Linked DNA regions of Homo sapiens: region 1 is linked to region 2. Evidence: fine-mapped expression QTL. A gene starts in region 2. The other region holds a variant in brackets. All regions are shown on one strand. Distances are from middle to middle.

Evidence for each region. PIP is the estimated chance that this variant, and not a neighbour inherited with it, causes the effect. A credible set is the group of variants that fine-mapping cannot tell apart.
Region 1: its variant is the best candidate, but not a certain one, in a credible set for the expression of LINC02822 in prefrontal cortex (CommonMind, PIP 0.89).

Annotation. Positions count from the first base shown.
Region 1 is chr12:90,515,257-90,528,562 of GRCh38, reverse strand. No RefSeq gene overlaps it. Among named protein-coding and RNA genes, the nearest start is that of LINC02822, 72 kb to the left of the region's middle. The variant TA/A (reference allele first, on the strand shown) is at 6,249.
Region 2 is chr12:90,587,634-90,600,939 of GRCh38, reverse strand. It overlaps LINC02822 (long intergenic non-protein coding RNA 2822), which reads right to left and starts at 7,373. Exons shown (of 4, transcript XR_429171.5): 1 at 7,129-7,373.

The DNA of each region.
Region 1 (13,306 bases), 72 kb after region 2:
TGCCAGTTAATCCCAGCACTTTGAGAAGCCAAGGTGGAAGAATCACTTGAGGCCAGGGGCTCAAGACCAGCCTGGGAAACATAGCAAGACCCCATCTCTACAAAATATTAAAAAAAAAAAATAGCTGAGCATGGTGGCATGCACCTTTAGTCCTAGCAGCTTGGGAGTCTGACGTAGGAGGATCCCTTGAGCCCAGGAGTTTGAGGTTGAGGTTAACTATAATCATGTTACTGAAAACCATCAACTGAAAGACATAATTGTTTTCTTTTCGTAGTACCAAATAGTAATGATAACAAGAGTTATTTTTGTTAGTTTAAATTTTATGACCTATGATGTTGCTAAAGTCCTGTTTGGACTATGTTAACTAGTTTCTCCTCACGCAATATATTAGATCTCTCTCTCTCTATCTCTCTCTCCCTCACTGTCTCTGTCCTTTTTCTCTCCTTCTTTCCCTCTTAATGTTTACCTTTGTTTCTTTCTCTCTTGTTTTCAACAGCTTAGCATTAATAATTTTCTAGAAGAATTTCTTGGCCCCAATCTGCTTATGCTATACCAAGCTCCCTTTCTTCATCCTTCTCAGAACTCTGAACCTAGTGTCACTCTGGAGTTATCTGGTTTCAATGAAAAACAAGCCTCTTTGTGTATTTAACTCTCCTAATAGTTCATGAGCTCCTCAGTGATAACGCCTTTTGCATGTTTGTATCACTTGTAACCAGCAGAATGATTCGCTCTTAATAGGTATTCAATTCATATTTACTGAATAGATGTACTTTCTTTAATAATTTCCATTAATACTGCTTTTGTTACTTGATGCAAAATACGACACTATGAAATTTACATTTGTAGGATGTGTCATGGGAATAGAGATAGATGAAAAGAGTTTGTACAATTAAAGGAAAAAACTCCCTCAAGAACGAATTATTCTTCAAGGGAAACATGCTCCTGGCAGAGAATTTTAGTAAAGACAACTCAGTGGTGGTAAATGAAGTGCTGATAATTCTAGGTCAAGTCAGGTCACAGAAGGAATTTTGCTAAACCTGTTGGAATAATGCAATATAAAAAATCCTCTTCAATTTTCTGCTTAAATTTTGTCTCCCTTGTTTTAGTAACAATTTGCCCCATAACTTAAAAGAATATTTAACAGCTTGTTAGCAGGTGATATTAATTTTAGATTAAAAGTTATTTATGCAAATTAAAAAAAATTAAAGCAGATATACATCTGTCCATTATATTTCTACAGAAATAAAAATAGAAGTTATTAACTATGGCTAGTAAGTGTTAAATGTTAATTTTGGGTCCATACTCCTTGTGAATAAAAAGCACTTATAGAGTAGACCCCAATTTATTTGTTCTATGGAGAGGAGGGGGAAGAGGTAGGAGGGGGAAGAGGTAGGAGGGGGAAGAGGTAGGAGGAAAAGAATAAAAGTAGGATTTCCTGAAGTTTGGTGATCAAGAATAAGCTAAGGGACTTAAGGAGAAATATAAAGTCAAAATAAAACATTAGCCCTGGGAACACTTACTTCTTTGATTATATAAAAATTATTTTATTTCCCAAATGAGATAAAGTGAGGCTTACAGAGATATTGCGTCCTCTTTATACACTCTCACTATAAATGAGAACCTACAACCTAGACTACTATTTTGTCCTCTACACCATTCTGTCTAAGAATCAGGCTGTTGATTGTTTGATTTGTGGAGAGATAGAAACCTATGATCCTGCTTTTTGGACATGCCATAAGCTGAGATTAGTTGTAGAGAAAGAACCACCCACAAATATCAAAGGGAGAAAATCAAGTGTGGGCCACTGAAAGACAGTATCATTCTTCATTGTGAATCCACTGAGGATCCAGGATGAAAGGAAACTACATTACAAGTAAGCAACCAACGTATTTTTCCAAGCATCTGTATGCTATAAGCTGTATAATCTTAGAAAAATTACTTAATCCAATATGGGAAACTGAGATGGTCTATTCAATAACTTTGTTGTAAAAAGTAAATAAATTAAAACATGCAAATGATTTAATGTCTGGTATTATAAAGCATACAAATCTCTAACTAGGTTCTGGTATACAGTAAGTACTCTATAAATTTTAGCAATTATACTAATAATGAAAATAGTATCTACTGTTGCTGATGATTTTGATTAGCAAAATTTTCAGAAGGTAAAAATAAGACCCAATGAGTAAGAATTCCTTGAAGTCATGGACTGAAAGAATTCTCAGTGGAAAGACTTATCTAAAATAATAGTAATAGCACTTAATACGTGTCAGTCACTGTATTAGACTCAGCCTTATGAAAAAGCATTTATATCTATTTTATGCTGAGAAAAATGAAGACCAGGGCAGTTAAGTGGTTTGCCCACCCTTATGTAATGCAGTTGTTGCATGGCAGAGCCAGGATTTACACTATTTTTTTCTAATGCTAAGGCACAGACATTTTCCAGTGCTGCCTTTATTGTTTAGTCATTGCATGCTATAGAACAAATATGCATTCTCTTAAATTTGGCAGTATGTGATAGAAAATAGAACAAGGGAAGAAGAGAGAGGACTGTCAGCAATTAAATGAAATCTTATGTTAAATAAATGTATGACATAAGTATAATGATAGTATATAACACATTTGCCACTAGTAGTGTCTGCTCCTCAGAGATGGCTGAATTTGGCCTGAACTTATTTGCAGAGCCTAAACTATCTAGAACACTCTTCAAGATTTCAACTATAGAAACAATACTGTATTTCCTGTGGAAGACAGTGTGGTGATTCCTCAGGGATCTAGACCTAGAAATACCATTTGACCCAGTCATCCCATTACTGGGTATATACCCAAAGGAATATAAATCATGCTGCTATAAAGACACATGCACACATATGTTTATTGTAGCACTACTCACAATAGCAAAGACTTGGAACCAACCCAAATGTCCAACAATGATAGACTGGATTAAGAAAATGTGGCACATATACACCATGGAATACTATGCAGCCATAAAAAATGATGAGTTCATGTCCTTTTTAGGGACATGGATGAAGCTGGAAACCATCATTCTCAGCAAACTATAGCAAGGACAAAAAACCAAACACCACATGTTCTCACTCACAGGTGGAAATTGAACAATGAGAACACATGGACACAGGAAGGGGAACATCACACACCGGGGCCTGTTGTGGGGTGGGGGGAGCAGGGGAGGGATAGCATTACGAGATGTACCTAATGTAAATGACCAGTTAATGGGTGCAGCACACCAAATGGCACATGTATACATATGTAACAAACCTGCATGTTGTGCATATATATATATACGTATATATATATATATACACACATATATATGTACATATATATATATAAGAAACAATACTTACACAGCACTTACTAAATGTAAGGCTATGCTAAGCACTTTTACATGTATTAACTAATTTAATCTTCATAGCAACCTTATGAAGAAAATACTATCATTGTTCCCAATTTCCACATGAGAAACCCAAGGCAGAGGGAGGTAAAGTAATTTTTCCAATTTCACACAACCTGTGGTTGGTAAAATTGGGATGGTCACCCAGGCAGTTTGACTTCAGAAAAAAAAGACTCTAAACAAAGACATATTTCCATATATTATTTCCTTGTGCTTTTCTCCTTCTACATGATCCTATTTCATCAGTTCTGTATAAAAATGAGCCCAGTATCATGAGAATGAAGAAGGCTCCCTTTCCTTGTACTGGTTTCCATGAGAAAACCAATCACATCAAATCTGCCTTAGGTTCATTCTCTGGGAAATGGGCTCTGGTGGAGTTTGCATGGGGGAGGTTTATTGGGCAATGCTTTCTAGAACAACTCACATAGACAAGGGAAGGAAGTAAGAGAGGGCATGGGGAGAAGTTGAGCTGCAATACAGCAGCCACAAAATCCTCAGCTAGTCATCCATGGGGAAGCCACGGAGCTAGGAGGACACTTCAAGGATGTTCCTGAGTGAAGTCCTTACCTTGGTACATAATAGGGAAGAAGATTCAGAGGTTTGAGAAGTGCTATCTCCAACTTTCTTGCCGGGAAAGGCAGTCACATGCCTGCAATCTTTCAATTCTGCTCTGCAACATAAGAATGGGCTTTGGGCCTGGAATGCTTCCTAACCAAGAGATAGGGAGACCTCAAAGCCTGTGCTGGGATTATAACTTTGTGTGGGAATATATTTGCCTGTTTCAGATCCAATAATAACTTTGTCTTTCTATTTAAGCATTTGCTTCACGTGATACCAGGCCAACTCTACCACCATAACCCATTCTTAGCTGCGGGAGGAAATAGGTTCCTTCACTTGCAGAACAAGAGGAGTGCATGTAGTTAATCAGTGTGCATTGGCTGCAATACAACCCCCTGAGCCACAAGGATTGGCACCCACTATTGAAGCTAATCTTGTTCTGTCTCCTCTATGTGGGTAAAGCCATGTTCCATCCAGTGCATGTGTGAGTTCTATCTTTCTTATTGACCCTGAACCATGATGTGGATTGGCATCCTGGGTATGCTGCTTCTGTGGAATGGGAATCCTTCCCTGGAGGTTATAACAGGAATTCCTCGATCAACGCCTCTAATTAAATGCCAGGCATCACCAATTCTGCACAACTTTAGCCATCTGTTCAACACCTCTGGGGTTACTTTCTCTTCTTGGGAGTGACTCAAGGAATAGGGATGCAGGCTATCTTCTAAGGGAACTGAGCAGCATCTTTAACCTCTGGATCTTCCTTCAGAGAGAAATGTCACTCCCTGGGGATCTTGTTTTCCAGATACTACAAGAAGAAAGTGTTTTCAGAAGGTAAGTATGGTCATCCCTGTTAAATGTTGCTGCAATATCAAGTATAAATGAGAAGAAACCTTTAGATTTGGCAACCTAACCATCATTAGTGATGTTAAAATGAATGGACATGGTAAAGTGGCAGAGATGAAGGTCTGAGTAATTCAGAAAATTGCACACTTTTGCTTTTCCATGTATCTCTATGGACTCTCCCTTCTTAAACTCCTTTCCTGGCTCCTTCTCTTCTGTTGAAGCTTTAAATCTGGAATTACTCCATACTGAACATCTCTGTATACACACTTTTGCTGGGTGAGCTTAGCTAATTCGTGACTTTGAATATCATATGCAATGGGCTGAATGTTTGTGTTCACCCAAAATTCATATATTGAAATCTTAACCTCCAATGTGATGGTATTAGGAGGTAAGGCCTTTTGCAGGCAATGGAGTTATGACGGTAGAGCCCTCATGAAAGGGATTGTGCCCTGATAGAAGAGAACCCAGAGAGCTCTCTAGCCCTCTTTTTCCCATTTGAGGACACAACAAGAAGTCAGCAGTCTGCAACACAGAAGAGAACATGCTCCAGAATGCTTGATCTCGAACTTCCAGCGTCCAGAACTGTGAGAAATAGATTTGTGATATTTATAAGTTCTCCAACCTATAGTATCTTATTATATTAGCTCAAAATGTCTAAGGTGTCATATATTTGTTAATGATTTCCAAATTTATATTTAAATCACTGGCTTATCTCCAGAAATCCAGACTTACATTTTATAATTCCTACTTTATATCTCCGCTTAGGTATCTAGTAGAATCTCAAAATTAAGGTGGATAAAGTTATCCAAATTCTCCCTTACTCCCTGAACCTACTTTTTAAAAACATCTTCACATCTAAATATATATACCACAATTAACCATCATAACAACAAACTATGTGTTATCTCTAATTTTTCTTATTTTCCTCCCTTCTCGTCCATATTCAAGCTATGAACTTCTTTTCACTTGTAATATTTTTAAGGTTTTTGTTTTAGACATCTTCATAGTGAGACAAAATATCCTTAGGTTTTGATTTTTGACTCCACATGAGACTACTTTTAGGAGGTGGGTTTATTCTATTTATATGTCTTGTTATAAGAGATGTGTCTTGACTTTTAATTTCAGCATTTTATTTTATATTCTCTGATTTTAAAACTTTATTTTATTTCCATATTTGGTAACTGTATTGATCCTGTTTTTTTCTTGTTGATACACTCATTATATATTTAAGTGGCTACTATTTACAGATGGCAATATTCTACGAGCTGAGATGATAAGAGTGAACCCAGCAGACAAAATTCCTTTTGTCCTGTAGCTGGGTGATTTTTCTAATGGTAATTCAGATCATCATATTATTTATTTTGATTCCATTTTATAGTAGTTACCTTTAAAATTTTATTTAATATATATGAAACTCTATTTCTTTTTTTTTTTTTTT[TA/A]GGTAATATGGCTTCCCATTCTAATGAGAGGGATTTTCATTCTCTTATTTTGTTGATGACTTCAAATAGCATAACTAACCTATATTTCTTGACTTTTTCACCTTAGGTAATATCTATATTCTACTAAACCAGATGAGAAAATTACTGTCTTTATCTTTCTCCTCTCTTTCAGTTTTTCATATACAGAGTTTTAATTTTATTTAGTATTTTTAAATTGTCTAGATTTATAGTATATAGTTTTGTAATAATATTTACCTGTATTTAGACTGAGGGCTCCATTTAAACAGATCCAAAGATCACCATTGTTCCATTAGACCATGATTATGGTTACTTTGTAGTTTGTTGGTTTTGCTTCTTTTGTTTATTCATGTTATCCAGGATAGTCCCAGGGTTTATTAGGTTATGGGTTCTTGAATATTTGAAAATGTATATCTATTGTCTTTATATTTTATTAATCGCTTGCACACAGAATAATTCGTCTCAGAGGAGATCATCTAAAACTAAGACTTTAGGTTCTCTTCTCTTCTTACCCTCCCTTCCTCAGAGGCTCTGCCTTTCCCGCTAGAAATTACTTATGAATTTTTATTATTTTTCTTCCTTCCTCCAGTTTACACTGAAAACAAGAAAGTCCAAATTACTGAGTCCAACTTTTCTTATTTCAGGTGAGATACTGGTATTTTTTAATATATTTTCCTCAGAATTCTTACATATTCCCTTCTTCCATTCATTTCTAAATTGGGAATATCCCATGTCTTTGGGGCACATGAATTTATTGGCGATGCTTTGCATGAAGACAAAAGACAGAAGCGATCAGCTGTCTCTGAAAAGTCCTCACAGGGTGGCATTTAAGAAAGTTCTGCTCTTATCCTCAACATTGCAATTTCATCAGTCTCACTGACCCATAGAAACGTATGAATAAAACAAAAGTCGCATTTTGAAAATTAACCTATAAAGCACATAACTTTAACTAGAAACATAATACTCTTAGTGATCTGAGAGTTTTTCATTAGAAGCATATTTACATTGAAAAACAATGATGATCAAACTATGATCACTGCATCTCTTGTTAAACCAAACAAGTAAGTTGGATGATCTTAGAAAATGCTTTTTATCTAAAATAGTTTGAGTCCTCTTCCCCAATTGCAAAACATAAAAGATTATCTCAATTTTTAGAGGTTAGAAAATTGAATTTTCGAGAAGTTAAGTCACCTGACCCAGCTCATATAGCTAGAATGACATAAACCTAGTCTCTCTGGTACCAGACCCTAAAGTTTTGTTCTGCTCTGTCAACTAGGCAAGAAAGCTGATAGGTTTCCAAGATCTTCATATCACTTCCTGTGGTGTCCCAATTACAAAATCCTTAGAAACATTTCATTCATTTATTCCTTCAATTGTACTTTTTCTATATGGAACACCATATCAGATATTGTCAATGCCCCACCCATTTCCCCTTGGGACCCAACTGCCGAAAGCTGCTTAGTGAAAATACCTGAACCCTCTGATGGAAGGTTTTTGTTTTTTGTTTGTTTGTTTGTTTTTGCTGTTTTGTGTTTAGTTTTGCCTGAGAAACATATCAGCCTTCACTCAGGGAAAACTAGACATAAAATAAAGGTAACATTTCTAGGAGCAGGCCTCAGTGGATTATAGTCAAAGATTTGGTAAATAAACACCATAGGTCCTTCATTCTCTAGCTGGAATAATTCAGAGCTATTTTCTGCGCTGACTCTCACATTGCTCCAGGGAACTAAACTCCCATCTTCTGGATTGATAACCTGCCTATTGTTTCACTCATTTGGGCTTCCTTCTCTTCCCTATCTCATTTCCTCACTTCCCTACTAGTTTTTCTGGATGACCTCTCAAACTTTAGGAAATCAAATTCTTGCTTCAAGTCTATTTCTGGGAGATAAACTAAGACAAAAGCATACTAACTGCTCATTGTTGTTGAAAGATGTGGGGATATAGAAGTGAAAAAGCAAATTCCCAGATGTTAGAAGTGAGAAAAATTATTTACAACTTGGAAATAGGCAAAGAGATTAGTGAGTTTCCTTTCAGTGCAGTTTTGGGCTTGACTTACTGTCAATAAGGCTATTTTACAACTCTGTTGGGCAGAGGTTAACTCATAAACTTTTGTCCAATAAAGACGTAAATGATTTCCATCCAATGAACTAGATAGTGCCAAAGGTTACATTTTATTTTTCTGCCATACATTAATAATCCTGTATAACCCAACTTCTTATTGTGATATTTCTTTATTAAAGTGCCTATTTCTACCCAATGCTTTTATGCAAGTTTTAACATTATCTTGGTCGTCTTACTAATCAAGGAATAGAATTAACATTTTAACATGTATCCTTTTTACATTTGTCTGAGAGTAATGTTTTATAGTCTTTGGAAAATTAAACTTGAGCATAAAAAAGAAAAACAACCAACATGCACACACACAAGTCATGTCTTGACAAGTGTTATAAAGAAAAATAAAGCAGGGAAGAGACTAGATGTTGATGGTTTTATATTTTATACAGAGTGGCTAAGAAGACATTTGAGTGGAGACTTGAAGGAAGGGAGACTGGAGGTCATATGGTTATCTAAAGCACAGGTATTCCAGGTAAGGGGAAAAAACAGCAAGCCTAAAACCCTTTAATAAGAATAGGGTTGACAAATTCAAGTAACAGTAAACAGACTATCAAGGTAAAAATAGAATGAGTTGTGGTGTATGTATGTGGAGAGGGAGGATGGTAAAAGATGAAGATATCAAGTGATGTGGGACAGATCACATATAGCCTTCTAGACTGTTTCAAGGATGCTGACTTATACTGTAAGTGAGATAGAAAGAAACCACTGGGGGATTTTGAGCAAGAGTGATATGATCCACTTTGAACAAAGGATCATGCTGGTTACAGTATTGAGACTGGACTATAGTGGAGTTACAACAAATGCACAGAGACTAGTTAGAATGCTATTATTTTTTCAATTTCAGCAAAAGATATTGGTGCCTTGGCTCAGGGTGATAATGATATTGAAAAATGTTAGACCTAAGATAAATTTTGAGACAGAACTACCATAATTTTCCAAGATAATTGGACGTAATTTATGAGAATGTACATCAGTCTTTAATTTACTCATTCTTTATTTTTTTCAAACATTTAATGCAAGATATACACTAAGTGTACAATAAAATAGCACCTGAGATTCACGTAGACTTTTGCCACAAGTCTAACAAATTTGGGATTAATACAGTTATGTCACTTTAGAGACATTTTAATACTTAAAACTGCTACTTCCAAAAAATGGTGATAAATGTATCAGAAAAAAAATTTAAAAAGAACTTGTGACAGTAACTTAAACATAGAGGATTCTGACATAGTCAATACTGAGTCTCTAATTTTCAGGGAAGATATTCATACAAAGAAAAGCCAAGTTTATTTTCCACTAATGGAACCAAAATGCACAAAAATAGATCTATTTGCATGGACATTCGAAATTTGAAACTAGGATTGTAGAATTTTAGCAATCTTTTAAAAGGATGATATTGGTTTTAGAAAACAATAGCCCATCATTCCAGACAACCTGAATCACTAACTTCTGTAGGACTTTTGTTAAGTATTGATTATGATAATGTTGTTGCTAAACTGAATAAGTATCGTGTATTTCATACTAAGAGTAGGTCTGTAAATTTTTCTGTCAACTACTCCTTTTATCTTTAAATAAAGATGTGTTTGTTGTATCTTCAACAGTTTATTTCTTAATAAATTGATCTTCAAAGCAATGTGTGCAAACCAGAGATCTTGTGAAAGATGTCCCATTGAATGCTAGAAAAAAATATGTTGATGATCCAGAAATAAATGATTTGTACCCAACAAATGATTGTTTAGGAGCTGAACTGCAAAGTGACTAGAAACAACTCTTAGGCTCTGGTTCAAGTGTGTCAGAGGACAGGAAATGAAGCTACTGAAGAAGGAACTTTGTCTGCAATGAGGAGCTCTTACTCTGTTACACTCACAAGAAGAGATGCCACACTCAGGAAAATTATACCTGGGCCTATTATTCAAATGATGAAGAAAGATGTAATGGTAATAGGTTATATTGAAGGGAGGCCATGTAGAGGTTAGATGTGAAAGAGAATAGGGTACTTGCTGTTGATATGAGCAGACTCTTGAGTACTGAATGTTGTGGCAGCTCCCAAGTTAAATGAAAACTAATAATTCCAATGCTAAGCTTATCTGCAATGAATTAAAAATTTCCTTTAGAAAATTTTTTTCTAAAGGAAATGTCTTAATTGGACTTAAAAGGAGTGTCTTAATAGGCCCCTTTAGAAAGCAGAGACAAAGATGAAGTTGATAATACATTTGGGAGGTACCAGCCCAGACAGGTGAAAGTAAGGAAAGAAAAAACAAGTGAAACGGAATATTCGAAGCAAAGCAATGTGATATGTCACCATGCCAGCTGTGGCTTTGTGACAAACTGGGAATAGGCAGAAAAGATCTCTCAGCAGGCTTGTCAGCTTCTGGAGCTTCTCCAGAAGGCAAAGAAGTACTGCCATTCAGACTAGTCCACCAAATAAAGTAAGGAAGAAAAATTGATCTTCCCAACTCTGATCTTGCATTTCTCATTGGTCAAGATACAAGCCCTAAACTTTTGGGTTGCATCATTCTGCCCCTCTGTGGCTAAGAAGCCAGAAACTACACTATGCACTGAGATGTTTTATCCAAAACGAGAGAAGAGTGACGACCCCGTGTGGGTACAGGAAGCTCAGGCAAAAGTCAATGGGTGCTATGACAGATAGATGGAATACCTCAAGAAATAGAATTTCATAGAGGAGAAGGTGAAGAAAACAAACTACAACCCCAGGAGAAAAGGGCTAACTACATGCAGCATAAGTACCAGTGAATCCATGGATTGGAGCTAAAGGGAGTCAAGTATATGGCACGATATTTAAATAACATATTTAATTTTAATAATAATTATGGTAATAACAAAGGACCTTTATTCCATGCCCCTTTTTCAGCTTTATAGAATCTTTATCTCTATTAACTGTGAGGAGGAGGGGTTCTGGCTGTTACTAGCAACATGATAGGACCTAAAACTCTAAATTCATGTCTCTTGAGGAGGGTACTTTGTTATTCCCTAGGAGGCTCCTCAAAATGGTCAGGAAGACAACCTTGGATTATACTCTGTATAGAGTAAGATAAGGATAGGATTTTGAAATATGCCTTTTTCAGCTTATTTCACAAAAACTTGATACATAGATTCCCAAACTGACCAAATTAATAAAATAGGATGCCAGTTTATTTTAATGACCATGAGTTTGCTGGGGAATGTTCACATGGAAGCACATCATGTATTTGTTGAAATCATCTATTAATAAAATGACCAATACCATTAATAATCACAAATGATGAAAATAAAAGAAAAGAACATGAACAAGTTTAAGATAGAAAACCTCCCTTGATTTAGAAATTTGTATCATTTAGGAAAGTTGAAGTAATCAACAACTGGGTGAAAACGGGAAAAGTACATCTAGACTAAGTAAATGTTGCAGCATCACAAACCATTTTAATTCCTTCCTTCTCAAAGGTTTCACTATTTCCAGGTTTTTGCTATGAGTAAGTACAATGTGGGTGTTGATGGAAATTGTACTATATTGTCAATCATTGTAACTCTGCTGGAATGCCTTTCTCCAGAATGTCCAGGCATCTTGATAGAGTCAGAGACTGTGCCATGGAAAAGTGGATACTTCTGGGGCAGGGGTGTCCAATCTTTTTGCTTCCCTGGGCCACATTGGAAGAAGAATAATTGTCTTGGGCCACACATAAAATAGCTGATGAGTTTTTTAAAATTGCAAAAAAATTTCATAATGTTTTAAGAAAGTTTATGAATTTGGGTTGGGCCACATTCAAAACTGTCCTGGGCCACATGTGGTCCACAGGCCATGGGTTGGACCAGCTTGATTTGGGCTATAGTTAGGATTTTGCCTTATTTGGGATACTATCCTGAGATCTGCTATTTTTAATATTTCTTGAGGAAATTTAAAATAAAATAGGAGGAGTATGCATTACAGAAACCCTGAGTTTGATACCAACTAAATATGAATAAGCTTTCTCACTTTCACAATATTATTAGGAGGCTGCCTGCGGTTTAAACTTCATCAAGGGCTGATGTGAATATTTTAACTTCAAAACATTAATAATCACTTGTAAAAATCTTTATATGTCTTTTTTTGCTTTTAAACTTTGAACAGAAAGGTTTTTTCTTTTGAAGAAAATGCTTTAAGAGGAAGTATGCATGTCTATTTCATATTGAAAGTAAAACCAATAAATTCATAACCACCACGAAACTAAAGGTTGACTTTAAGAAAAAGAAAAAGTGGGTGGGAGAAATTTAGTGTGTAGCCATGTATGTTTCTCATCTCTTTCCTTTAATTTGACAAGAATGGCAACTAACAAAGAGACCTGTTTGATGGAAGATAGCTTTTAGCCCAAATCTTTGAGATGCCACAAAGCTTTCACCAGCTATTAATGTTTACTTAAATGCCTTTTAGAATGACTTGCTCATCTGGAGTTGCAAAAGAGCAAAGTATTTGAAATATGGGACCTTCTTCTTAAAGTAAATATCCTGTTAAATTGCTAGCTGATAATGGAAGAAAAGTTCCAATTACATTTTTGTGAGAAATATCCATGGCACTTGTACAGCTGACACAAAGGATATTCAATTGATAGCATATCCCTTTCTCAACCTACACCTCTGCACATTTTTATCTTGCTTCTTTAATTGATCTTCCTTCGTGTCTTTTATTCTTTCACCCTCTAGTTTCCCCCATGTGTTTCCTCCTTTTATTTTTCTCCCTTCTTGGGCCAATGACATTATAACACCTAATCTCTATGGTGACTTACATAACTAAACTGTATAAGAAATAGTAGCTGTTTTTCCCTCCAATATATCTCAGTAAATTAAGGAAATGAGTAAGTAGTTATGAATCAAGTAGCACATTTAAGGAGGATGGGAGTTTATCATTTACCATGACTAGCTACTGCTTTTATCCAAATAAGCCTCTGTGAAC
Region 2 (13,306 bases):
AAGGGAGCTCACTGCTAAGAAAAATAGCAAGAGTAGGGTGCTATCCAAGTGTGTGGGGTTTGTTTTCCTTACTCCATTCTGAAGAGTGTCCATGTACACAATGGGAATGCACTGCTTTAAGTACAGAATGGTATAGGAGGTAGTCTACTAAAGAGAATGCTTACATTTCTTATCCTTATTCAATTATTCCAATTACTTCACAGTGTAGCTACAATATAGGTTTTCTTTTTTCTCGTTATTTTAACATACCTTTTCTTCAAATCTAGGAAGTTGATCTTCTTTAAGCAAACCTTTCAGAGGAAGCATGTTATACATTTGCCTGTCTACCAGTTCATGGTCAACTGCAACCTTTCCCAGGGCCAGGCAACTGAATTAATTCAAGGACTCCGTAAAATAAATAAAGTAGGTAGTTAGTTTTGCTGTTAGTAGTAATAGTTCTGCTAGAATGAATGGTTTATGAAGGTAATCAAGTCAAAGGAATGAGGCTGGTTTCCCAGTACATGTTTCCCTCAGATTAGTTCCTTTTGGCTATTTGATTCAAGCTACGTATTTATGTTCATTTAAATCAGGTTTCAGAGGTAAAGAAATATTGTGAGAAAAGGAAGAATGGAGAACGTAGGTATCTTAGTTTGTTTGGACTGCTATAAAAATACCATAAACTGGGTAGCTTGTAGGCAACAGAAATGTATTTCTCATGGTTCTAGAGGCTAGGAAGTACAAGATCAAGGCACTGGCATATTATGCTCACCAGGCACCGAATATGTCAGTGCCTGGTTTTCTGGTTCATAGATGGCACCTTCTAGCTGTGTCCTCACCTGGTGGAAGAGGCAAAAGCAGCTCTCTGGAGCCTGTTTTATAAGGGCACTAATCCCACTCATGAGGGCTCCACCCTCATGACCTAATCACCGCTCCAAAATACCACCTTCTAACACATTGGTGATTAGGTTTTTAACATATGAATTTGGTGGGAACACAAACATTCAGACCATACCAGTAGGACTAAACTTGAAGAACAACTTAACACACAGGCTCTTCTAGGTCCCAAGAGGGAGAAATGTGGCCACTGAAATATGTCATTAATGTATTTATGCAAGCAATTTGCCATTGGCTGGCAACAAACCCATCACAGCCACCATGAATATGACAGACTAATATGGTTTGGCTCTGTATCCCCACCCAAATCTCATGTCGAATTGTGATTGCAAGTATTGAAGGAGGGGCCTGGTGAGAAGTGATTGAATCGTGGGGGCAGAGCTCCCCATTGCTGTTCTTGTGATAGAGTTATCTGGAGATCTACTTGTTTAAAAGTGTGTAGCACCTCCCTCCAACTGCTCCTGACAGCCATGTGAAGACGTGCTTGCTTCCCCCTCACCTTCTGCCATAATTTTAAGTTTCTGAAGGTCTCCCAGCCATGCTTCCTGTACAGCCTGTGGAACTGTAAGTTAATTAAACCTCTTTTCTTCATAAATTCCCCAGCCACAGTTAGTTCTTTATAGCAGTGTGAGAACGGACTAATACGTAGACTTTTTTAATTTACTAAGCTCTGTAATCAATAGATTTTTAAATAACGTTGTATCTTTGGTAAGGGAGACTTCCAGGCAAGTGTTGCAAGTTCAGCTTATGAACTAGATACCTCAACTCTGCCCTCTACCACTTTCTTTGCATTCCCATAAAAAGATTATTTAAATATTTTTATGTTCTATACACTTGTGCTGAAGGAAGGAAGGAAGGAAGGAAGAAAAGAAAGAGAGAGAGAGAGAGAAAGAAAGAAAGAAAGAAAGAAAGAAAGAAAGAAAGAAAGAAAGAAAGAAAGAAATTCCCACGTATGTTACAAAAAATATCATTATTTACCACAACCTACTATACCTTTTCCAAAGAGACATTTTGATGTATCCCTTAAGTTATTATAATTATAATATGATTAAATATTATTGTAGCACACTGAGAGCCTTAATATGTTCTCATTGCCCGAAAATTGGGTTGAAACTCAGGGAGAAGTTTCAAATTTGAGTTCTAAAATGCAATTTAACCTTAAATAATTGAAGAGGAAATAATAAGCATAAAGGTTTTTTTTAAAAAATCTCATAAATAAAAGCCAACATCACACTTTTCTTTAAAAAGGTATGTAATTTTATTATAATATATCCTCGCTTTTGCCTCTTATAGAAAAATTAAGTCTAAAGGTATATTTTGTATACAGCAATTTTATACACATATAGCTAAAATAATTTTTTAAAAATTATCCAGTAAGTTATACCAAAGATGCAATTGATTAAGACGGCTGACTGATAAAACAGATATGAATGCAAAAGTCTCTTAAAGTCTTTACCTTTAAGCTTAAGAGCCTTAACAGGTTTAAGGTCTCTTAAACCTTTTACCACAGAAGTTCAATAGACCCATCTTGAATAGTAAGATGTTAAAGTCATGTCTTACAGTTCTTAAAGACTAAAGTTAATACTATATTTACTCATATTAACTATTATGAGACACCCTCAAGTCTCTCAAAATTTCCTAGTCATTCTTTATTTTATTATGTATTGTATCTGGATGGTAGAAACAAGGTGAAGTCTAAGAAGAATGTTTTTTCAAAGTACTTTTTATTTTTTATTTTCAAAGGCAACAACTTGTTCCAATTATGCCTTGAATTACAGTGGGAAAAGTGTGTGTGTGTGCGTGTGTGTGTGTGTGTGTGTGTGTGTGTGCATGCGCCTATGAGTATATGTATGCATCTGTCTGTTTGGTAGTCCAAGAAGAAACATTTCATCTCTGAGGTTTTTAGTTATAGGTGCATAAAGAATTTGTAGCAATCCTGGCTTCACTAATCTTTAAATTCTCTATCCTTAACTCTTAGGAAACAAAATTTGGTAGCAATACTCTTAGCCATACAGAAAAATATGTCAAGGCCTAATGATTTTGGCAAGAACTAATTGCTAGATCAAGTAAAATTCATATGAGTGAAAACTAATCTTATACAGGGCAATAAAAGCATTTTCAAATTTCTTTTTATGTTTTGTTATGTGTTAAATAAATATTTGATAAACACACGCTCAAGGACCCTCAGGAAGCATTACTGCTTATATTAACAAGGAAAGTGTGTAACAGTTTTTGTGAGCTTCTTTCTTAAAATTAACTTGCAGACAATGCTGCAGTTTGCTTCTCCTTCTTTTTAGTATACTGAACAGATTCTTAAATATGTGTATGTTCTAAAAACAACCTCTGAAACAATTCTAAAAAATAATCTCTCTATATTTTTAACATGTATATTTCACATTATATTACAGCAGTGAGAAAATGTATTTTAAATGTTTAACTATTATATGTGTGTGTATATATAGTGTGTGTATATATACATATAAAATATATATGTGTGTATGTATGTGTCAATTACCAATGGTTATAATCAAATATGTATTTCTCAATAACTAAAGTACCATTTCTGATGTTTTAAGGGATGGCCTGATACATTCAGGGCAACTTTTTTGGCCAATAACAAGGAATAATTAGAAAATGTCTACTACAAAGAAGCTGACTTATCAACTTCAAAAATAAGTAAAATGCCATAGATGCTTACAATTTGTTATTAGTAAATAAGTTAGTAAGGGCCAATTTGCATCCTACATTTTAAGGAAGCTAAGATTATGTAATTCTACAGGCCTGATAGATATAAAATTGTTTTGCTTTTGCCATTCAAGTTATGTTCCTGAAAATTTGTTTGCCTCTCTAATTACTGCCAACTTTCAGTTCATCGTTGTGCCTTTTCTAGATTTGGCAGAACTACCTTGCATAGGGAATAGAGCTTATTTGAATGAAATAAGAGTTACTGCTGAAGAAAGAAGCCTGGTCTGAAAATAATGAATATATATGTATATATATATAATGGAAGTAAGAAACAAAGTATTTTTGAGATATAATAACACAACTGAGAGCTGGATACTATGATATCTATTCATTTTAGAAGTAATATAGAACATAATCAATTTTATTAACGAGAATAAAAGATCCAAAAAGTTACCTGACTGGCCCAAGATCACAAAGCTAGTTCTGGCAGGCAGTATTAAAAGCTAGCTGTCTTGGCTAACAGTAGTTCTTTTCATTAAAACAGTATAATGACTGTTTACTGTGGTCATCTATCAAATATTATTCAAGATACAGTGTTATGTTTATTTTAACTCTGAACTTTAAAAAAATAATCCCAGAGTGTTGTTGGCTAATTGGGAGGCTAGATGCCCTCTGTGAATGATCATCATTAATATAAATGAAAACTCTAATATTATTTTATCATGTTTATATCAATTTATCCATATTGTCAGTTATCAAAGGGACATTTAAACCCTTTTTCCCCCAAAGCTAGATTTTAGACAAATAAAAAGATACAAGAGGCGTGGTGGCTCACGCCTGTAATCCCAGCACTTTGGGAGGCTGAGGTGGGCAGGTCACAAGGTCAAGAGATCGAGACCATCCTGGTCAACATGGTGAAACCTCGTCTCTACTAAAAATATAAAAATTAGCTGGGCATGGTGGCACATGCCTATACTCCCAGTCATTTGGGAGGCTGAGGTGGGAGAATCGCTTGAACCTGGGAAGTGGAGGTGGCAGTGAGCTGAGATGGTGCCACTGCACTCCAGCCTGGTGACAGAGCAAGACCTTGTCTCAAAAAAAAAATATATATATATATGTATGTGTGTATGTATATATATATGCATATATATACGTGTATATATGTGTGTATGTATATATATATGCATATATATACGTGTATATATGTGTGTATATATATACGTGTGTATATATGTATATATGTGTATATATGTGTGAATATATGTATATATGTGCATATATATGTATATATGTGTATATATATACGTATATATATATATATAAGATTTATAGTTAGCCTCAGGGAGAGTTTATGATATTTTATGAGATTATCACATTTCAGGTAGAATGTATTCCTCATGCAAGAGTCGGCCAAATTCATCCAGGAGTTTGAAAATGAATAATTTCCAAATAAAAATATTAATTTTGAGTAATTGAATCAAATAATTACTTCTTCTGTTTAAATTCACATTCAATTCAAATGGAGTTAGCTTCCTTTATAATGTGTATTTGCATTTTCCTGAATGAAATAATATGATATCTAAGATTTGCTTCAAAATTATCCAGTTTGTGTTATGTGGAGTGTGTGTGGGGAAATAGAACAAGATTGGTGAGGGATACATGCAAATTTATTATCATAACATTGCCTCCCCTATTATATAAATATAAGTGTTTTCATAATAAGTACAAGGTGTATATTTTCCCATGTATGTTTATTGAAACTATTATTAACTATATGTTAGAAACCTGTGGAGAATCATCTTAAAATAGACATAGTCCCATTGTTCAGCCAGTAGCACATCTTCTTAACTTCTTTCCTCCCTCCCATAATATATCCCTCTTTTTCATTTGTCTCTTACAATGCCAGGAAACATAGAGACAATGATGTATTTGCCAGCTTTTCCAGCTCGAGTGGGAACAGATAATATGTGTTATACCTATTTACCAGGTGATCGTGAGGTACAGAGAAGCATTGAAGATGAAAGCACTTTGTAATCTGTGAAGAGTGTAAATGTCAATCATTATAATAATGATAATCAGGATGATGTAGGCAATGATAATTGCTCTAATTGTTTTCCTTCTGTTTCATCGTATACAGTCTTATGTGAAATTAAGGTTCTTATTAAATCTGTGTTGATGTTGATCAGTTGCTTATAGCAAAGTAGTAAATAAGTGGAATTCTAAAAACAACCTTCATTTAAGTTCTGTGAACAGTAGGAAGCTTAAGGACTGCATTTGAATGTGCTTTATAACATCTAGCCTAAAATTTTAAGTGAAAAAATAAAGCACTATTTTAGTAGACTTCAAGATACAGTGTTATGTTTAACTCTGAACTTAAAAAAAAAAATCCTAGAGAGTTGTTGGCTAATTGGGAGGCTAGAGGCCCTCTGTGATCATCATTAATATAAATGAAAATTCTAATATTATTTTATTTTATTTTCTATCTTAGTCCTTGTCCTCAGAAATTCAGGTACCAAATTTTAATGTGTTTCTTCATACTTTAGTGTATGAAAATTTTCTACGCTAACTAAAATCTATTCTCAAAAAAAGAAAGAGAAAAATTTTTCCTCTATCCATTCCATGCATTCACCAGTTTTCTTTCCAAATAATCAGAATAATTTTATAAAATATAAAATATGAGCAAGTCTAAATGAGGCAGTGATACAATTATGACAATTCACTTTCATCTCCGTCAATTCTAATCTTACTTAATATAAGGTAGCATGAAGTTCTCTAATATGTATATTTCACAGTGAGATCACTTATTTCTAAATTTAAATACTAAGAAAATTGTTAAAATTCATATTTAAAATGTATGAATTTTATATTAGGTAACAAATGGCACCTTATTAAGGAGATGAAGTGGAGTCAAAACTTTGACAGTGTCAAAATTAGATTATACAACTCACAATTAACTCTAAAAGGCTAGTAGCATTTTTTTTTAACTAAACAACTGGGTAATCGAGTTCACATGTAATAATTACTGCCTAAAAGTATGAAAACAGTTAAGCAAACTTTCTTCTGACATTGTAATCTTATAAACATTTTTTAAAAATATATTTTAAATATCTATTAAAATATTTTAGTATATAAAACATAAAAGATATAATAGGTTTAACATATGCTAGTATTTTACCACATTTGCATCTCGTCTTTAAAAAAGTAAATACAGCTGACAGCAAAAGTCTTGCCCATCATGTCATTCTTTTGTCTCCCCAGACATAGGCATAGTCTGATACAGCATGCATTTTTTGTGCATGATTTTACACTCTTACAACATATGTCAGTACCATGGACAAGTGTGTGCTTTAAATTTTACAGAAATGATTTCATATTGTACACAGCATTTTATTTTCTAAGTTCCCAAATCATAAGAAAAATCACAATAAAGTCAAATGACATGTTTAGCTCACTCTAATTATAGAGTATGTCTCAAAAATAGCTCCTTTTGCTGTCACCCTTTCATCAAAAAGATATTTGAGTACATGAAACACAAAAGGTTGTTATAAACATTCTCTTTGTGGTACTTACCTGTAGTTAAATCATCCCAGCTTTCACAATTCAGTAAGCAATTACTCACTTCTTGGCTCTGTCTCCTCTTGATTAACATGAAGTTGATAGAAGAATTCATTAGTGTGAGAAATTATTAGGATCCGATAGAGTATAAGTGTCCAGTGGCATTATTAAATTCATCTCTTTATTCTCTGAACTGATAAAGTGAGTGTTTGTAGAGATGTAGATCTGACACTTGCTTCATTCAATTCCATTACATAACTGAAAAAAGAAAGCAAAGAGATGAGCTACAAATTGGTGCAACGCAAATTTTTTTTGGAAGTCAATTATTTGCAAATTGACAGATATTTTACCACAATGTTATATACAGTGGCTATTATCCATTCAGCCCAGAAATTCTATTACATTAATCATGAGTCCAAGGGTTAGAACTATGTTCAAAGTATGAAGGACTACCAGAAAAACACTCTACAATACCATTTGAGTTGACATTCCTGAAGCAATGGGTCAGGGGCTTCTGTGCCACATCCTCTGTCTCTGTCAAGCACAAGAAGTAGGATATTTCCAGATACAAAATGCTGGTACTGGTTGATGGCATTTGCGGTCAAGGATTCAGCAGGTAACTTGAACGTTAGCAGCTGAGGTGGCTAAATCCTTGATCAAATAGAACCCAAGGAATATTAAACACCGGGGAGGGAGACCAGGAGGAAAGGTCTAAGGAATTTGGGGGCTCAGGGATCCCAGATACCATGTGCCTCCACCTTGAATTCATTTTCCAGTCACCTCCCTTGCTTTAGGCATTGACCTGATGGTCCCACTTTCACTCTTTCATCCCTCCTTCTCACAAGTATTTCCCATTCTCTCTTCCACTGAAGGAAACACATCACACTGATTACATGGCCCATTTTTGTGGTGGAATTCAGGGAGCCAATTGGGCCAAGCCTCCATGAATAAAGGGTCACAAATTTTGACTTCTACTTTCATCGTCAAATAAGTTTTTGCACATAGTCATGGAAATACAATATTGAAAAGATTGAAATATATCATTTATCGACCTTTAATTGTTCAACTTAGGCATTTAAAATATATCACCATAATCATAATACTGCTTTGTACTTCTTTGGTTTTTTCTTTTCTTCTTCTTCTTTTTTTCTTTTTTTTTTTTGAGACAGAGCCTCTGTAGCCCAGGATCACTGCAAGCTCCGCCTCCCGGGTTCACGCCGTTCTCTTGCCTCAGCCTCTGGAGTAGCTGGGACGACAAGCGCCCGCCACCACGCCCAGCTAATTTTTTTTTTTTTTTTTTTGTATTTTTGGTAGAGACAGAGTTTCACCGTGTTAGCCAGGATGGTCTCGATCTCCTGACCTTGTGATCTGCCCGCCTTGGCCTCCCAAAGTGACTTCTTTGGTTTTTAATTTGCTTGGATCTCAAAAGGATATCTGAAGCATGATTCTTTCTTAATTCTGTGAAGGCGTGCCTACACCTTACCATTCCTAAAGACAAAAATAATTGCTCACTTGTATTTTATTTTTGTAGTAATAATTCTTAATATCCTTTTATTATTTTTGGTGTCACACCTCAGTAGACAAACTTCTGGCATGAATGCATTGCTTCTCTTTCTGCAACTGCAAAAGACACTGCTAATTGATGAGGCTCTTTCTTGCTGAGACAACACATTGGTCTTAAACCTTTCTAAACATAGCACTCCAAAGAGTCACTAATGATTTATTAGTTAGCAAGTGAGATGAACTATATCTGTGACCTCCAACTTAGATCCTATAGGAAAAAACAAATCATAGAGGTTTGCTAAAATGGGCCTTTGAGTATAAAATAACTTAATATTTAATTACCCCTGACAAAATGGTGAAAACCAGAGATTGTGTCTCTCTATGGAATTACATCAAATGACCTGAGCCTGAAGGAAAGTAGGAGGTAAGATAATGTTGAAGCTATGTGAGTGAACTGAGGAAAACAGTATAGGGCATTGAACATGCTACCCGGAGACCTTAGAGATGAGAGAGGAGGCCTCGAAATTATTTTTTAATATTTATGTTATTTTTCCCTGTACCTTCTCTTTCACATCATTCCTGTCCTTCCCAAAGTGTCGTCCTCCTGGATCAGCCCCATGTAATATCAGAATGTTAGAGTTGATATGAAAGTAAGAGCTGCGTATAATAGTAGGTAGAGGAGGAGAGAAATAAAATCCAAAACAGCAATGAAGAGAGAAGTATTTTCACTGTGGCCTCAGGAGCAACTTCTCATAAATAGTTTTTTACATAAATGACATAGTGTATGGTGAGTACCTGTAGTGTCTTGTAGTGTCTTGAATTCCAATAAATTGCCTAATAATATTCCACTATGTGTAAATTTGTCTTGCTTTTTTTAATTTTGAAAGGCAGATGCCCTGGGATCATGTGCCTGGTGACTGGTGATCTCCTTTAAGGGGAGAACCCTGACACACTGGATCATTATTATTGCCTCAGGAATCTGCAAGGTGCTCATTGTTTGTTGTGAGCATTGGAATTCCTGGCAATCTCCACAACTGATAAATCAGACATATCGTAATGGACAGATAAATGAAGACAAACGGTCTTTCAAATGTTACTGTCATTTCAAAAGAAAATTAAAAGAATTCAACAGAAAACATGGGGTACTAACTGCTGTAATAAACTCCAATTTATAGATGTTTAACACAAATGAAGGTTATTGGTGGTTGGCTTTCCCCACGATCGTTTGTTTCATCTTGTGAAATTCCCATGTTCAATATCTGAATCTCGAGGTGACTCTGTAGGCTACCTCCTGCAACCAGCCAGATTGGGAAACGATCATACAGTTTCATGTGGAGGTCGTTATGGTCCCAACCTAGAAGTGGTTCACATTCCTTCTGTTGCATTCCACTGGCTTGAACTTAATCACATGAACGCAACTAACCAAAAGGTGGGCTAGAAAATGTAATCTATCTGTATCCCTATAAATAAAAGGAAATGAATTTTGGTGAACACATAGCCATTTCTGCCACAATCTATGCTATAAACTGTTTAGACAGATTTCTTGTGTTTCTCATGTAGTCCTTACAACAATTAAAAAAGGATACTATCTCCATTTTATTGATAAAGAAGTTCAAAAAACATTGGGACTTGAAGATTATTCAGCTAGAAAGCATCAAAGATACAGTTTGAGGCTGATTTCAAAATGAATCCTTTAAGTCAATGGATCCCAAAGGCCAGTCCATGTGCAGCTGCAATAAAATTATTTAGAGAGTATGTTTAAATGTAACTTCATGACAATAACTCTTGGAGATTCTTATTCAGTAGCTTTGGGTTAAAGCTCAGTATTATATAATTTTAAAAGCTCCCTAGGTAGTTCCATGCACAGCAAAAATTGAGACCAGCTGCTCTAAATTTTGTGAAATTGGCCACTGAATGGACACCACCGGGGCAGGAAAATTAGCAGTAATCAATTGCTTTCACAGGGCAAACAACAGCATTGAACCATTCCCTCTGTCTTTCTATCTTTTATTAAACATGAATAAAGCATTGAAGTGTTCAATAGCTTCTCAGAAATAACTGGTAACATGGTGATGATGTTTGAATGGTGGCATTTGTCCATATAGGAGTGAACTAAAAGATGTGGTCATTTTAAATGACATTATTCACTGAGCAACCATGAAATAATAACTTTAGTAAGGACAACCAGATCATTACTCAGCTGGGTGGCATTTGAATTGGTATCCTAAAAAGCTCCCACTGTTTTGTTTCCAAAGCTGAGCTTCTTTCTTAAAACACTGTGAAAATTAGTGGGACTGGAAATGATAATGCTTGACAAAATCTTTTATTTTTTATTTTTTATTTTTTTGAGACAGAGTCTCGCTCTGTCACCCAAGCTGGAGTGTAGTGATCTCAGCTCACTGCAACCTCTGCCTCCCAGGTTCGAGCAATTCTCCTGTCTCAGCCTCCCGAGTAGCTGGGACTACAGGTACACGCCACCACATCCAGCTAATTTTTTGTATTTTTAGTAGAGATGGGGTTTCACCATACCGGTCAGGCTGGTCTCGAACTCCTGAGCTCAGGTGATCCACCCGCCTCAGCCTCCCAAAGTGCTGGGATTACAGGTGCAAGCCACTGTGCCCAGCCTTTATAATTTCTTTAAACTAAAATTTGACAGCGTACTTTGCCATCTTTTCCTGGACCATAGCTGTTCTCGTGAATATCATGGAGAAATGCAGAAACTGTTAAAGGACATTTCCTGCTTTGAGCTCTTTGATATTAGTATAATCTCCCACTGTTAACTTTTAGAGCACATTTAAGCTCTTAACCTAATGTTGTTCTGTGACAATTCAAGTAACAAAATATTCTCTATGACAGATTTTTTTCATGTTTGTAAGGCTATTTTGCAGTGCTAAAATAAACATAGAAGGTGCATTCTATAGTTTGGAGTTACAAATTTTACTGACATATATGTAAGTATATATAAAGCTTAAATTGCCAAACATAAGTACACTAGTGGAGAGTGCAAATTCCTTGTGATTATCAGTTATTGCTTAGAGTCCAAATTTATTGAGTATAAAACACCAGGATGAGGACAATTTAGAGAGTTTATTTAATTTCATCAGGGTTCAGAAAACTTCGATGCTTGCTGAAAGTGAGTCACACATGTGTATGCACGTTTGGACAATACTCAATATAAGCCATAATTTGAAATTACAGATAGTTCATTTAATAAAAATGCAAAATCTGCTGTTTTCTTTGTCTTTTAAGAATTATTTCCATGTGTTGTAATTTAGCACAGTATAATTTGTTTGGAAAATTAAAGTAATAAAACCTTAGTTTGTTGTGTGTTTGAATAGTGGCAATGATTGTCTCAGTGGGTGGCTGCAAATGTGGGAAGAAATCATTGTCAAGATATGCAGACAGAATAAGTACTATTTACTAAAGGCTAATATATAAGAACTAATAATAGGCATATTGTCACATAAAAAATTAACTCCCTAGGAGAACTTGAACAGTTAGCTTCAGTGCAGTTAGCATACATATGTTTTCCTTTTAAACCACTGAAATAACCTTCTGGAAGGAAAAGAAATCCAGAGCAATCTTTGTCATTTTCTGTGTTACATTATGTGGTGTTAGGTGGTAGACTATGAAGTGATTAGTAATGAAAGATGATTATAATCATTGGATTATTAATATTTTAGTGGCATGATGAAATGATTATTATAATCATGTGAACCACCAGGAACACATGTAATTGTGATAATTCTGAGTATTATTTTATAATTTGGAAGATTAGCACATAATAAGAGATCAATGAAGGACAATTTCAGAATGAGTGTGTATGTGTGAAAGAAGAAAATTTTTGGAAAGCAAAGCTAAATAGCTAAACAATAAACTTTCTAGAACTGTTCTCATACCTTCTTCTGCATGGGGATTTTGGATTTTTCTTATGTGAGATCCCCTAAAAAGACAAAGATTTTGGAAAGATTCCCTAGATTTATAAAGTTCCAATTTCCAAAACAAGAAACTTTCTGTCAAGAGCTGGTAGGCTAAGAGTTAAATATAGTAGCATGATTCATTGACGAGGATATATTGCTCGGAGTGGAACCTCTATAATTGTTTTTCTGAGATGAATTATTTCAGACCTACAAATGAACTTGTCTTTGTTTTATAAGAATATGATCAAGACTGGCAACTTTGATCAAATTAATCAAGAATCGTAAATATATGGAAGTGCCAGACTCCTCTAATAGGCACTTTATGCTAAATTTTTCAGTTAGCCCCACAACAATCCTATGAGGTTAGTAATATTATTAAACATTTCTTACTGAAGAGGAAATAGAAACATAAAGATGATAACTAGCTTGGATGCACAAGGATTCAAGGATGCATAGTTAGCAAGTAGCAAAGTAGTTATCAAGCCTAGGCGGGCGCTGACTCCAGAATTCAAGCCCAAGGTCACTTCTCTATACTATTTTACATTGTATTTAAGAACTACATGAACATGAATGCATGGTGTGATGCTTATAGTTTCCTGATGCTTATAGTGTCCTGATCCTACTTCTGCATAAGCCATGCAAAGGTAGTGACCCAGACTGTAGAAATGCGTCAGAGTGAGATATACCAACAAAATGAAACGAGTGAAAGTAGTATAATTTTCCAACATGTATACACTCTCTCACACACACATACACGTGAGAGGAGAACT